3 linked regions of the Homo sapiens genome follow. The protein of the gene in region 1 purifies or fractionates together with the protein of each later gene. This does not show direct contact. Each region holds a gene or a part of one and is shown in the gene's direction. Other genes may lie near its edges.

The links.
Region 2: the proteins of RNASEH1 (region 1) and MAGED4B purify together in Homo sapiens (affinity purification with mass spectrometry, with the first as the bait; one large-scale study listed by BioGRID). This does not show direct contact.
Region 3: the proteins of RNASEH1 (region 1) and LUC7L purify together in Homo sapiens (affinity purification with mass spectrometry; 3 studies listed by BioGRID and IntAct, with this or other methods). This does not show direct contact.

The regions. Positions count from the first base shown.
Region 1 is NC_000002.12:3,548,274-3,551,921, reverse strand, and holds part of RNASEH1 (ribonuclease H1 isoform 1 precursor), read left to right. Parts: intron 1-1,449; coding exon 1,450-1,549; intron 1,550-2,809; coding exon 2,810-2,864; intron 2,865-3,197; coding exon 3,198-3,282; intron 3,283-3,648. UniProt on the Homo sapiens protein: Endonuclease that specifically degrades the RNA of RNA-DNA hybrids.
Region 2 is NC_000023.11:52,066,982-52,070,729, reverse strand, and holds the start of MAGED4B (melanoma-associated antigen D4), read left to right. Parts: upstream 1-1,546; 5' UTR 1,547-1,600; intron 1,601-2,505; exon of another isoform or gene 2,506-2,526; 5' UTR 2,527-2,557; coding exon 2,558-2,767; intron 2,768-3,031; coding exon 3,032-3,748. UniProt on the Homo sapiens protein: May enhance ubiquitin ligase activity of RING-type zinc finger-containing E3 ubiquitin-protein ligases. Proposed to act through recruitment and/or stabilization of the Ubl-conjugating enzyme (E2) at the E3:substrate complex.
Region 3 is NC_000016.10:219,325-222,972, reverse strand, and holds part of LUC7L (putative RNA-binding protein Luc7-like 1), read left to right. Parts: intron 1-2,225; coding exon 2,226-2,324; intron 2,325-3,648. UniProt on the Homo sapiens protein: May bind to RNA via its Arg/Ser-rich domain.

The DNA.
Region 1 (3,648 bases):
ACTGTAATCTTTTGAAATACTAGTATTCCCTGTGCATGCAGTACTTAACGTTAAGATGAAATGCGAAGACTCCAGCTTTTTCAAATAACACCTCACACGCAGCTGCTTGTTATAATTGATTAGCACCAGCATTTTAACCTTTCATATTCAATCTTTGGAAAACAAGAGATTCTATTTTATCCTGAGAAGCAAGGTAGTAGTGAACTTTTCTGCTACCTTTCACTCCAGGAATCAGTTATGTATTTAGTGACTCACAGAATAGAATTCTCCTTTGTGTCTTTTACACATATGAGCAGAAAGTAGAAATAAGCATTAAAAAATATAAATCAGTATATTTATAGGTTCTAATTTAATTCAAGGGAAACCAGTAGAAAATGTTTTGCCAAGCTGTATTATTTATAGATATGTTTTGCAGTTACGTAAAAAAAGATCAAACAAGTATTCTTTATTTGGTGATTTACTAGTAGGAATTGAAGCAAAGATTTGTGGAGTTGCAGGGAGATGAGCCGTTTCCAGACACTGACCATTGCTGGAGGCTTGGTGGCCTGGAACATGGCGGATAGCAGGTGCTGGCTCCTGAGACAGTTCAGTGGCTGGGTGGGAAGCTTGTAGTCATGCTGATACAGTTAAGTTCCAGCTGAACGGAGGAGCCCTGCCCAACACCCACACTCCCCTTGGCTCTCAGCCCCGCTCCTGTGAGGAGCACATCCCCATCTTTGCCCCTTCGCCACTGCTGAGCTCAGTCTGCCGTCCTTCGGACAAGTACTTCCACTTCCTGCGCGTACCACCTCTATTTGCCCTCTCGCCCAGCTCTTTTAACACTGTGCAACCTGACCTCTGATCCCACCACACTACTGAAGTGTCCTGGTCACCAGTGGCCTGAGAATGCCCCCGTCAGTCCTTTTTTACCTTGTTCTTTACAGCCTTTGTGTGTCAATCATACCCTCTATCTAGAGGGAAAGAAGCAAAGACGGGAACCACACTTAACTAGCAGCAAATATGCCAGGGAAGAAATTAGACCAGCACTGGTCAGGAGACTGGGCCCTCTGGCAGGCAGGGTCACCGTCATGCTGAGGCGCTGCTCGTCTCTGGAGGATGGCTCCCTGGGAGTGAAGGTGACCCTGCCGTGGAGACAGCGCCATTGTCCTCTGAACCCACAGTGTGGGATGTGAACAGTAGTTTTTACTGCAGCAGGCTCTAGTTTTACAAGGTGATTGCCTTCACCCCGAACTTGCCTGGCCTGCAAGATCAAAATGTAAGTGGATTCCAAGCATAAATGTTAGGTGCCCCCTTGTAAGGAATGGAGCATGTTTTCCTAGAGAGAAAACGTCTGCAGCGTTGTAAAATACCCTCTCGGTTTAAAATGCTAAGTCGACCTAGTGGATTTTTGAGGTGAATTTCAGTTTTTAGTAAGGTCAGCCCAGCAGCATGTACTTCCTTTTCCCACAGGAGACTTCGTCGTCGTCTACACTGATGGCTGCTGCTCCAGTAATGGGCGTAGAAGGCCGCGAGCAGGAATCGGCGTTTACTGGGGGCCAGGCCATCCTTTGTAAGTTAAACGAAGCTGAGTTTTACTGAATCATGTTCCACAACTTGTGAAAAGATGAGGCGGGATCTGCTCATTGTTTGATTATTGGGAAAACCTGCAGATAAGTAGCTCTGGCAGGGGTGGCAGAGGAGCAGCTTTGGTTCGTGTTGGGGCTAAGCGGCATTGCTTTTCAGAACGTGAGGTACCTCAGCTTTACTTCCTTTGCTTTTTTTTTTTTTTTTTTTTTTTTTAAGACACGGTCTCACACTGTTGCCCAGGATGGAGTACAGTGGCACAAACACAGCTCACTGCAGACTTCACCTTCTGGGCTCAAGCGATCCTCCCACCTTGGCCTCCCAAACTGTTGGGATTATGGGTGTGAGCCACTGCACCTGGCTTTGGTGTTTCTTTCTTGCCCTGGGGAGGAGTCTTTTTTTTTTTTTTTCCTGAGACGGAGTCTCACTCTATCGCCCAGGCTAGAGTGCAGTGGCGCGATCTCGGCTCACTGCAAGCTCCACTTCCCAGGTTCACGCCATTCTCCTTCCTCACCCTCCCGAGTAGCTGGGACTACAGGCACCTGCCACCAGGCCCAGCTAATTTTTTGTATTTTTAGTAGAGACGGGGTTTCACCGTGTTAGCCAGGATGGTCTCGATCTTCTGACCTCGTGATCCGCCCACCTCGGCCTCCCAAGAGGAGTCCTTTTTTCAGTAGAGATGAAGTCTCACTATGTTGCCCAGGCTGGGCTCAAATTTCTGGGCTCATGCGATCCTCCCACCTTGTCCTCCCAAAGTGCCGAGATCACAGGTGTGAGCCACCACCCCTGGCCCAAAAATTGCTCATTCTTTTAGGAAACTCTGGATCTCCTGGTGACCCCAAATTTTAAATAACTTGTCTAAGGGTTTTTCTGGTTCCTTGATTTCATTTTCCTCTTTTACTTCCTGGAGGTTTTTAGTAGTTTCAATCTGAAGTCTCACTCTCTCCATTCTTCTTCCCGAGTTTTCTCCTGGGATTCTTTCTGCTGCAGCCATAGGGCCTAACCCAGGGTCCGCAGAGAACCAGCTTTTACTTCCTTTGCCCTAGTGGAACCCATGAGAGTCAGAAGGTGCCCAAGTGTGGAAACCTGTGTGCTGCTCTCTGCTGGGAGTCTGTTAGTTTGATTTTTATATGATGCTTTTATATTTCAAATAAGAATACACACTAGTTTATCGTTATCCATTAAGAAGAATCACTTTGAGAATTCACTTTATACTTTTATTTTCTTTTGTACTGTTTTGAAACAGAAATGTAGGCATTAGACTTCCTGGGCGGCAGACAAACCAAAGAGCGGAAATTCATGTAAGTTATCAGATACGTTTAAGCCTCTCTTTTTTGAGCATTGAGTATGAAATTATCAAATAAACTAATTCTTTTTTTTTCTACCTATACATATAAGATATTTGAAGAGAGACGGGTTTAATAACAATTTTGAAAAATAGGAATTTTGTAGAAAAATTCTAAAAACTTATTTCAAATAGATGTCTACACAGGAGAATTGTATGTATAGTAGTGTTTCATACAGAGAATATAATCAGTACAGAGGGGATGTTTCAATTTCGAAGTACTTTTGAACTTTAGTAATGTCAGAGTTGAACATTTTCTGTAGCATGACTATCGACTTGTCTTTTCAAGGCAGCCTGCAAAGCCATTGAACAAGCAAAGACTCAAAACATCAATAAACTGGTTCTGTATACAGACAGTATGTTTACGATAAATGGTAAGCTTTCACATTTGATTTCTTCTGTTTTTCCAGTAACTGTGAAGGGAAATTGGTAGGAGGTGTTGTAACAGGGCAGGACCCAAATGGGAACGGGGGGATGACATTGGTTTGTCAGGTACCGAGCAAAGAGTGAGGATTTTGGAGTCTCCCTTCTGCTGCTCTGATGTTTTCCACATGCTTATTTCTTTGCCAGGCACTGGAGATGCAGTCAGAAGTGGAAGTGGCTCTTACTTCTAGTCTGTGTGTGTATAAGTCACTTAAGATGGCGTGTTGACTGCTTCTTTGGGAAATGCCCTGAATAGGAGCATGTAGGGGATGCTTACGAGGCTGGGGAAGGCTCCTGGGAGAAATGACATCTTAAGC
Region 2 (3,748 bases), on another chromosome or scaffold:
TCTGAAGGCTTTCGTTTGTAGGGTGTGTTCCTCTCCCGCAGAGGATATGTTACAGGGGAAGGGCTAAAGAGGCACAAGCAGCTGACAGGAGAGATTGATATATAACAGCTGGAGAAAACCACAGAGCCAGGCAGAATGGATACTGGTCAGCGGAGAGTAAAAGCTGCTGTCCTAGCAATACCTTCCATTCATACACAGGGGTCCTGGTGAGGCTGACATAAAAACAAATATAAAAATCTACTACGAATTTTACAAACAGTCCAGGTTCGACTGCAGATGAGACCACAGCATTTTCTGCCTCAAAAGACATCCAAGTGGAGATGTCACGTAGGCAGGTGAATGTACTATGCACTTGGACCTCAAAAGTGAAGTTTGAACTGGGCTTGTAGATTGTGGAGTAATTAGCTCAGACACACAGGTGTCTAATTGTCCTGGCGGACACCAGGAGGGTCTCAGCGGCAGCGTGATTGTATCGCTGATAAGGAAGAGGCCTGACAATCTGAGTAGAGAGTGGACCCGGTGGAGCAATTCTCATACCTGGATGGACCCACATAGAGCCGCAGAGGCTGGGGGCGAGGCGGGGGGAGGCTCTGTCTCCCTGTGTCCTGAATGCGGAGCATGAACTTAGGCCTTCTACAGCACAAACCTTGCTTCTTTGGGACAGATGTTGGGGTGGGGGAGGCCTGTCACTCAGACGGAGGAGGCGGTGCCTCTGTCCCCAGGCCAGCAGGAGCAGGAGGTGGACTTTGGAGTCCGGAAGACCCAGGTTCAAATTTTGCATTTTCTGTTTCCTGGCTCTGTGGTCTAGTTCATGCAATGTGTCTGTGCCTCAGCTTCCTGACACGCCAAATGGGGATGCTGACATCCACTTCCCAGCGCTGCTGTGAGAGGAAGAAAAGCCCCAGCACAGATCCCTCTGTGACATACAAGCTGCATAAAGGGTAGCTGAGGAAGCAGATGTTCCCAGTATGTCTGGGGGCCAGAGAGTTGGCTAGTGGAGAAGCACACAAAGCGAAGTGCCATCCTCTGGCCATGTCCATTTCGTAGCCCCGCAGGTTGAGGATTTCCACTTGTTGCAGTTAGAGACCCAGCTTATTAATTGTGAGACCTCACTAATTGTGACCTAAGGGGTCTTGCCGGGGAAACGGGGCATAGTGTATCCCAGACCAGGCTGGAGGAGTTTGGGTGAAAGGGCAGGGCAGGACAGAGAAGCATTGTGCAAAAGTGGGGGGACTGAGAAGAGATGATTGGGTGGGTCGAGCTGCACTGCAGGGTATGAGTGTGCGCGCCCGCGGTAGGAGGAGGAGGAGGAGGAGAGGTGAAGTGGATCTGGCGGGAAGAGCCCCCCGCACCCTACCTTCGACCCCACCGCCCACCCACCCGCGGAATCGCATGCGCACTGGAGACCTGGAGGAAAGGGCTTTTGTTGGGAAAGCGGGCGGGCTGGAGGGGTCCGCGCATGCGCAGGCTACCCAGCCGCGGGGGGTGCACGGAGAAAAGGGGCGGGGTGGTCCGGGCTGCTGTGCTGGCAGCAGTAGGCGAGGGCGCGGCTGCGGGGTTCCTGGTGCTGAGGACGGACGCCATTGGAGTTCCCGAGAAGGTAAGGATCCAGCCCCAGACAGGACCGGGAGAGGGCGAGTGGAACCCGACACGCTGCGCCCTCCCTCCGCCTCCGGATCTGAACAAAGCCCAAGCACTCAGAACCGGAACCCCATTAGACCCAAGGTCTAGATAGGAGCCCCCATCACCATCAGACCCAGGCGCCCCGATCTGAGCCCTACTGAAACCGGAGCCCAGGATCCTCACCCCTTTAGCAGACCCGTGTGCTCCGAGCTGAGCTCCCTTGGACCTGAGGCCCCACCCCCACCCCAACCACTCCTAGATTACTCGAACCGAGCTGACCGCTTGCCCCCTTCCTGGAGTGCCCAGTCCTCGCGTTTGAGATCTGCAGCGCTCCGATTGGAGCCTCACCTAGGTCTGAGGCCCCCACTCCATCCGCCTCTAGTGCTCGAGTCTGAGCCCCACCTAGGCCCCCCGCCCGGACCTAGCCAAAGGTCCCTGGGGTTCTGTTTCGCAGAGCTTGCGGCTTGCCACTGTCCCTGTTGTCTGAGCTCTCCCATCTGCTCCCCCTTCATCCCGGTCCCCTTCTCTGGCCCGTAAATCCAAACCCTTTGTTTCTCTCTTCCCCAATGCATTCCCTTTGGGACTCTTCGGACCCCAGCCCTCCAGAACACCCCCTCGTCAAATCTAGCCGCTGGGATGGCGAGCCTGCCCATCCTAAACTCCGCTTTCAGTGCGGCGCCTCCTGCGACCTCCTCTGTCCCTTTCCTTGGGCTCTGTCCCTGACCAGGTCTACCCCATCAGAAAGCCAAACCGTCTCCCCCCCGCTCCTCCTCCCCCCCCCCGCCCCCTACTGCCTAATATTGCCTAGTAACCTGATGATTGTCGCCCCTCACCTCCCGGGAGATCCCGCCTCCCATTGGATCCCGCCCCCTCCCCCTGCAGCTGCTTCACCCTCCCTCTCAGGCTGAGCTCTCATCTCCCTGGGACCCGCAGCATGGCTGAGGGAAGCTTCAGCGTGCAATCGGAAAGCTACAGTGTTGAAGACATGGATGAGGGTAGCGACGAAGTCGGGGAGGAAGAGATGGTTGAAGGCAACGACTATGAAGAATTCGGTGCGTTTGGTGGCTATGGCACCCTCACCAGCTTTGACATCCATATCCTCAGAGCCTTCGGAAGCTTGGGTCCAGGCCTTCGCATCTTATCGGTGAGGCCCCTTCCTGGACACCTGCTGGCCTGGGCCTTTCCCCTGTGAATGGGGGAGGGAGGAGGGGGGAGCCAGGAGGGTTGTGTGGGAAAGGACTGCCCAGCTTCCCAAGCCTTCCCTCCCCTGCTCGGAAGAAGAAGATTTGGGAAGGTCTTGGGGTGTTCAGGGCTGACTGCTGGGAAGAGGCTGGCCAGCACAGGGAAGCTAACACAAGTATGTCGTCGAGTGGCCTGCCTTCCCCAACCCCTCTCTCTGGCCTTGCAGAATGAGCCCTGGGAACTGGAAAACCCTGTGCTGGCCCAGACCCTGGTGGAGGCATTGCAGCTGGATCCGGAAACACTTGCCAATGAGACGGCCGCCCGTGCTGCCAACGTAGCCCGCGCCGCCGCCTCCAACCGTGCGGCTCGGGCCGCTGCCGCCGCTGCCCGTACCGCCTTCAGTCAGGTGGTCGCTAGCCACCGGGTGGCCACGCCGCAGGTCTCAGGAGAGGATACCCAGCCCACGACCTACGCCGCCGAGGCTCAGGGGCCCACCCCTGAGCCACCCCTTGCTTCTCCGCAGACCTCCCAGATGTTAGTCACCAGTAAGATGGCTGCCCCCGAGGCTCCGGCAACCTCCGCACAGTCCCAGACAGGCTCCCCGGCCCAGGAGGCTGCTACTGAGGGCCCTAGTAGCGCCTGTGCTTTCTCTCAGGCTCCGTGTGCCAGGGAGGTGGACGCCAACCGGCCCAGCACAGCCTTCCTGGGCCAGAATGATGTCTTCGATTTCACTCAGCCGGCAGGTGTCAGTGGCATGGCCTTCCCGCGCCCCAAGAGACCTGCCCCAGCCCAAGAGGCTGCCACAGAGGGCCCCAGTGCTGCCTCTGGTGTGCCCCAGACGGGACCTGGCAGGGAGGTGGCAGCCACCCGGCCCAAGACCACCAAGTCGGGGAAGGCGCTGGCCAAGACTCGGTGGGTGGAGCCTCAGAATGTTGTGGCAGCA
Region 3 (3,648 bases), on another chromosome or scaffold:
TCTTTTTTTTTTTTTTTTTTTAAAAGACGGGGTCTCTTTAAAAAGCTGGGCGAGGTGGCTCACGCTCGTAATCCCAGCACTTTGAGAGGCCAAGGTGGGTGGATCACCTGAGGTCAGCAGTTCGAGACCAGCCTGACCAACATGGAGAAACCCCATCTCTACTGAAAATACAAAATTAGCTGGGCGTGGTGGCACATGTCTGTAATTCCAGCTCCTTGGGAGGCTGAGGCAGGAGAATCGCTTGAACCTGGGAGGCGGAGGTTGCGGTGAGCCGAGATTGCACTACAGTCTGGGCAACAAGAGCGAAACTCCATCTCAAAAAAAAAAAAAAATTAAAAAGACAGGGGTCTCTGTTGCTCAGACTGGAGTGCAGTGGCTCAGTCACAGCTCACTTGAAGCCTTGACCTCCTAGGCTCAAGCGATCTCTTCCCCTCAGCCTCCCAAGTGGCTGGGACTACAGGCACATACCACCACACCCAGCTAATTGTTAATTTTTTCATAGAGACAGGGTCTTGCTATGTTGCCCAGGCTGGTCTCAAACTCCTGGGCTCAAGTGATCCTCCCATCTTGCCCTCCCAAAGGTGTTGGGATTACAGACATGTGCCACTGCAACTGGTACTAACGTCTTTTTTTTTTTTTTTTTCTGGTTATGTAGACATGTTCTTTTGTCCTACTGGGGGTGTCTCCTAGTTGGGATGTTGGGTTTTGTTAACATGCACTCTATAACTTGACACGATGATCCTCAGCACACAAACCTCCCTGTTGCTGTGTAGATGGCGAGAGGCAGAAGGTGTCTGCATAGAGTCCTATACTTAGGATTTAGATTAAAATCATACACTGTTTTCTAATTGTACTGCATATGGTACACATAATAGCACATCATGCTGTTCTTACTGACAACATAAATCATTTTGTTTTAGTAATGGAACGTTTTGCTTGTCAAATGGAGGAACTGAGTGGGACAATTATCTGTCCTCACTTAGATGTCCAGGGTCATTTCCCAGGCTAAGAAAATGTGTAGAGCATGTATTTGGCTACGAACCAGCCTGTTCTCCTTTATTCCCTTTGATACACAATCAGCTACACAAAGCCAAGTGTTAGGTTGTGATGTAATTGCCAAAATCTAACTTCTGTCCGCTCTTTCCTCTTCCTCTGTCTCTGCATCTTAAGCATCGAGCATCTCAAGTAGTCAAGATTGCAAGACAATGCCTAGAAATTTGTTGCAGTGAGACTGTTTTCTGGCCCTTTCCTTTTTTTTTTCCCCTTTTCTGAGACAGAGTCTCACTTTATCACCCAGGCTGGAGTGCAGTGGCACAGTCTTGGCTCACTGCAAACTCCACCTCCTGGGTTCAAGCGATTCTTGTGTCTCAGCTCCCCAGGTAGCTGGGATTACAGGTGCCCTGCCACCACACCTGGCTAATTTTTGTAGTTTTAGTGGAGACTGGGTTTTATCATGTTGGGCAGGCTGGCCTTGAACTCCTGACCTCAAGTGATCCGCCTGCCTCACCCTCCCAAAGTGCTGGGATTACAGGCGTGAGCCACCACGCCCAGCCCTGGCCGTTTCCTATCCCTGCCACCCCACATGCTGCCATTTACTGAATCCTTGGACTGATGCATAAATAAAACTGGGCCAGGCACCGTGGCTCACACCTGTAATGCCAGCTCTTTGGGAGGCCAAGGTGGGTGTATCACTTGAGGTCAGAGGTTCAAGACCAGCCTGGCCAACGTGGCGAAACCCTGTCCCTACTGAAAATACAAAAAAAAAAAAAAAAAAAAAAAAAAAAAATTAGCTGGGTGTGGTATCACGTGCCTGTAATCCCAGCTACTTGGGAGAATGAGGCAGGAGAATTGCCTGAACCCCGGAGGCAGAGGTTACAGTAAGCTGAGGTCGCGCCACTGTACTCCAGCCTGGGTGACAGGTGAGACTCCTTAAAAACTGGCAAAAGCCAATTAATGTAGTTGTGATGATTACAGTCCAATTATCTCTGGGTCTAAAATAGAAACTTTACACTATTAAATGCATCAGTTTCAAGTATCACGTAGTCACGATGGTAAAAGTGAAATGAGGCTTCTCAGCCATATCTCCTTTCTTAATTTTCTTATTGCAGTGTCAGTGTTCCAAAAGTGATCATTTCTGTTGGTGACAGTTGAAACACCAAGTCGCGTTGTGTGCTTTCTACAGTAGGTAGGCACTGAGGTCTGCATTTTCTGTTTCTTTCCCACAGCGCATGGATTTAGGAGAATGTACCAAAATCCACGACTTGGCCCTCCGAGCAGATTATGAGATTGCAAGTAAAGAAAGAGACCTGTTTTTTGAATTAGATGTAAGTTTTATTTAATGTTGATTTATTCCTACTGCGAAGAACCCAATATTGAACTAACAAGAAAAATGTAACATACGTAAGTTATGAAGCAAAATAATAAGGTAGTTGCTTGTTATCCTGCCACTCAAGCTCAGAGCTAGAATACAGCCAGTACTGTTTATATGTTGTGTCCAGCGTCCTGTCAGTGTCCTAAATGATAATATGTGTTATCTCATTTTGTTGCTTTTAAAAATTTTAATTACATTTTTATGAGTCCTTGAACAGTGTTTATTTTTGCTTAGTTTTGAATGGTTTCATAGTGTAGAGTCTTTAAAATTAGATTTTTTTGGTTCAGTATCATGTTTCTGTTTGCCCAGGTTGTTGCATATAGTTTTCATTGCTGCTTGAATAATTCTCAAACGATCTTTGCTTTATTCATAGACATTTAGATTGATTCTAGTTTTGCTACTGCAGACAATATGAATATTTTTGCATAACTTCCTTGTCACGTGGATAAGGATTTATTTTGGGTATATTCCTAGGAGAGGGATTGCTGGTTTATAGGAGATACCCGTATTTATCCTCGCAAGACAATTTTGTAATGTTGTCTTCTTGTTTCTATTTGGTAAAGTCCCATAGCAGTGTCTGCACGCTCACCAACACTTTGTATTATCAGACTGTTTAATTTTTGCAGTTTAGTGGTTGTAAAATGGCATTTCTTTCTGATCTCAATTTGCATTTTTTTAGTACTCAGTAGTTGTGTTATTTTATCTACATTAGTAAATTCTTTTTTTTTTTTTGAGACGGAGTTTCACTCTTGTTGCTCAGGCTGGAGAGCAGTAGTGCGATCTTGGCTCACTGCAACCTACTCCTCCCAGGTTCAAGCAATTCTGCCTCAGCCTCCTGAGGAGCTGGGAATACAGGCATGAGCCGCCATGCCCGGCTGATTTTGTATTTTTAGTAGAGATGGTGTTTCTCCATGTTGATCAGGCTGGTCTCGAACTCTCAACGTCAGGTGATCCGCCCGCCTCAGCCTCCCAAAGTGCTGGGATTACAGGTTGAGCCACCGTGCCTAGCTTCTTTTTCTTTTTGATACAGAGTTTCACTCTGTTGCCCAGGCTGGAGTGCAGCAGCATGATTATAGCTGACTGTAAGTGAATTGCTGGGCTCAGGTGATCCTTCTTCCACAGTCTCCTAAATAGCTAGTACTACAGATGCACACGACCATGTCTGGCTAATTATTTATTTAATTTATTTTAATTTTTATTTATTTATTTATTTTGAGACAGAGTCTTGCTCTGTCACCAGGCTAGAGTGCAGTGGCACCATCTTGGCTCATTGCAAC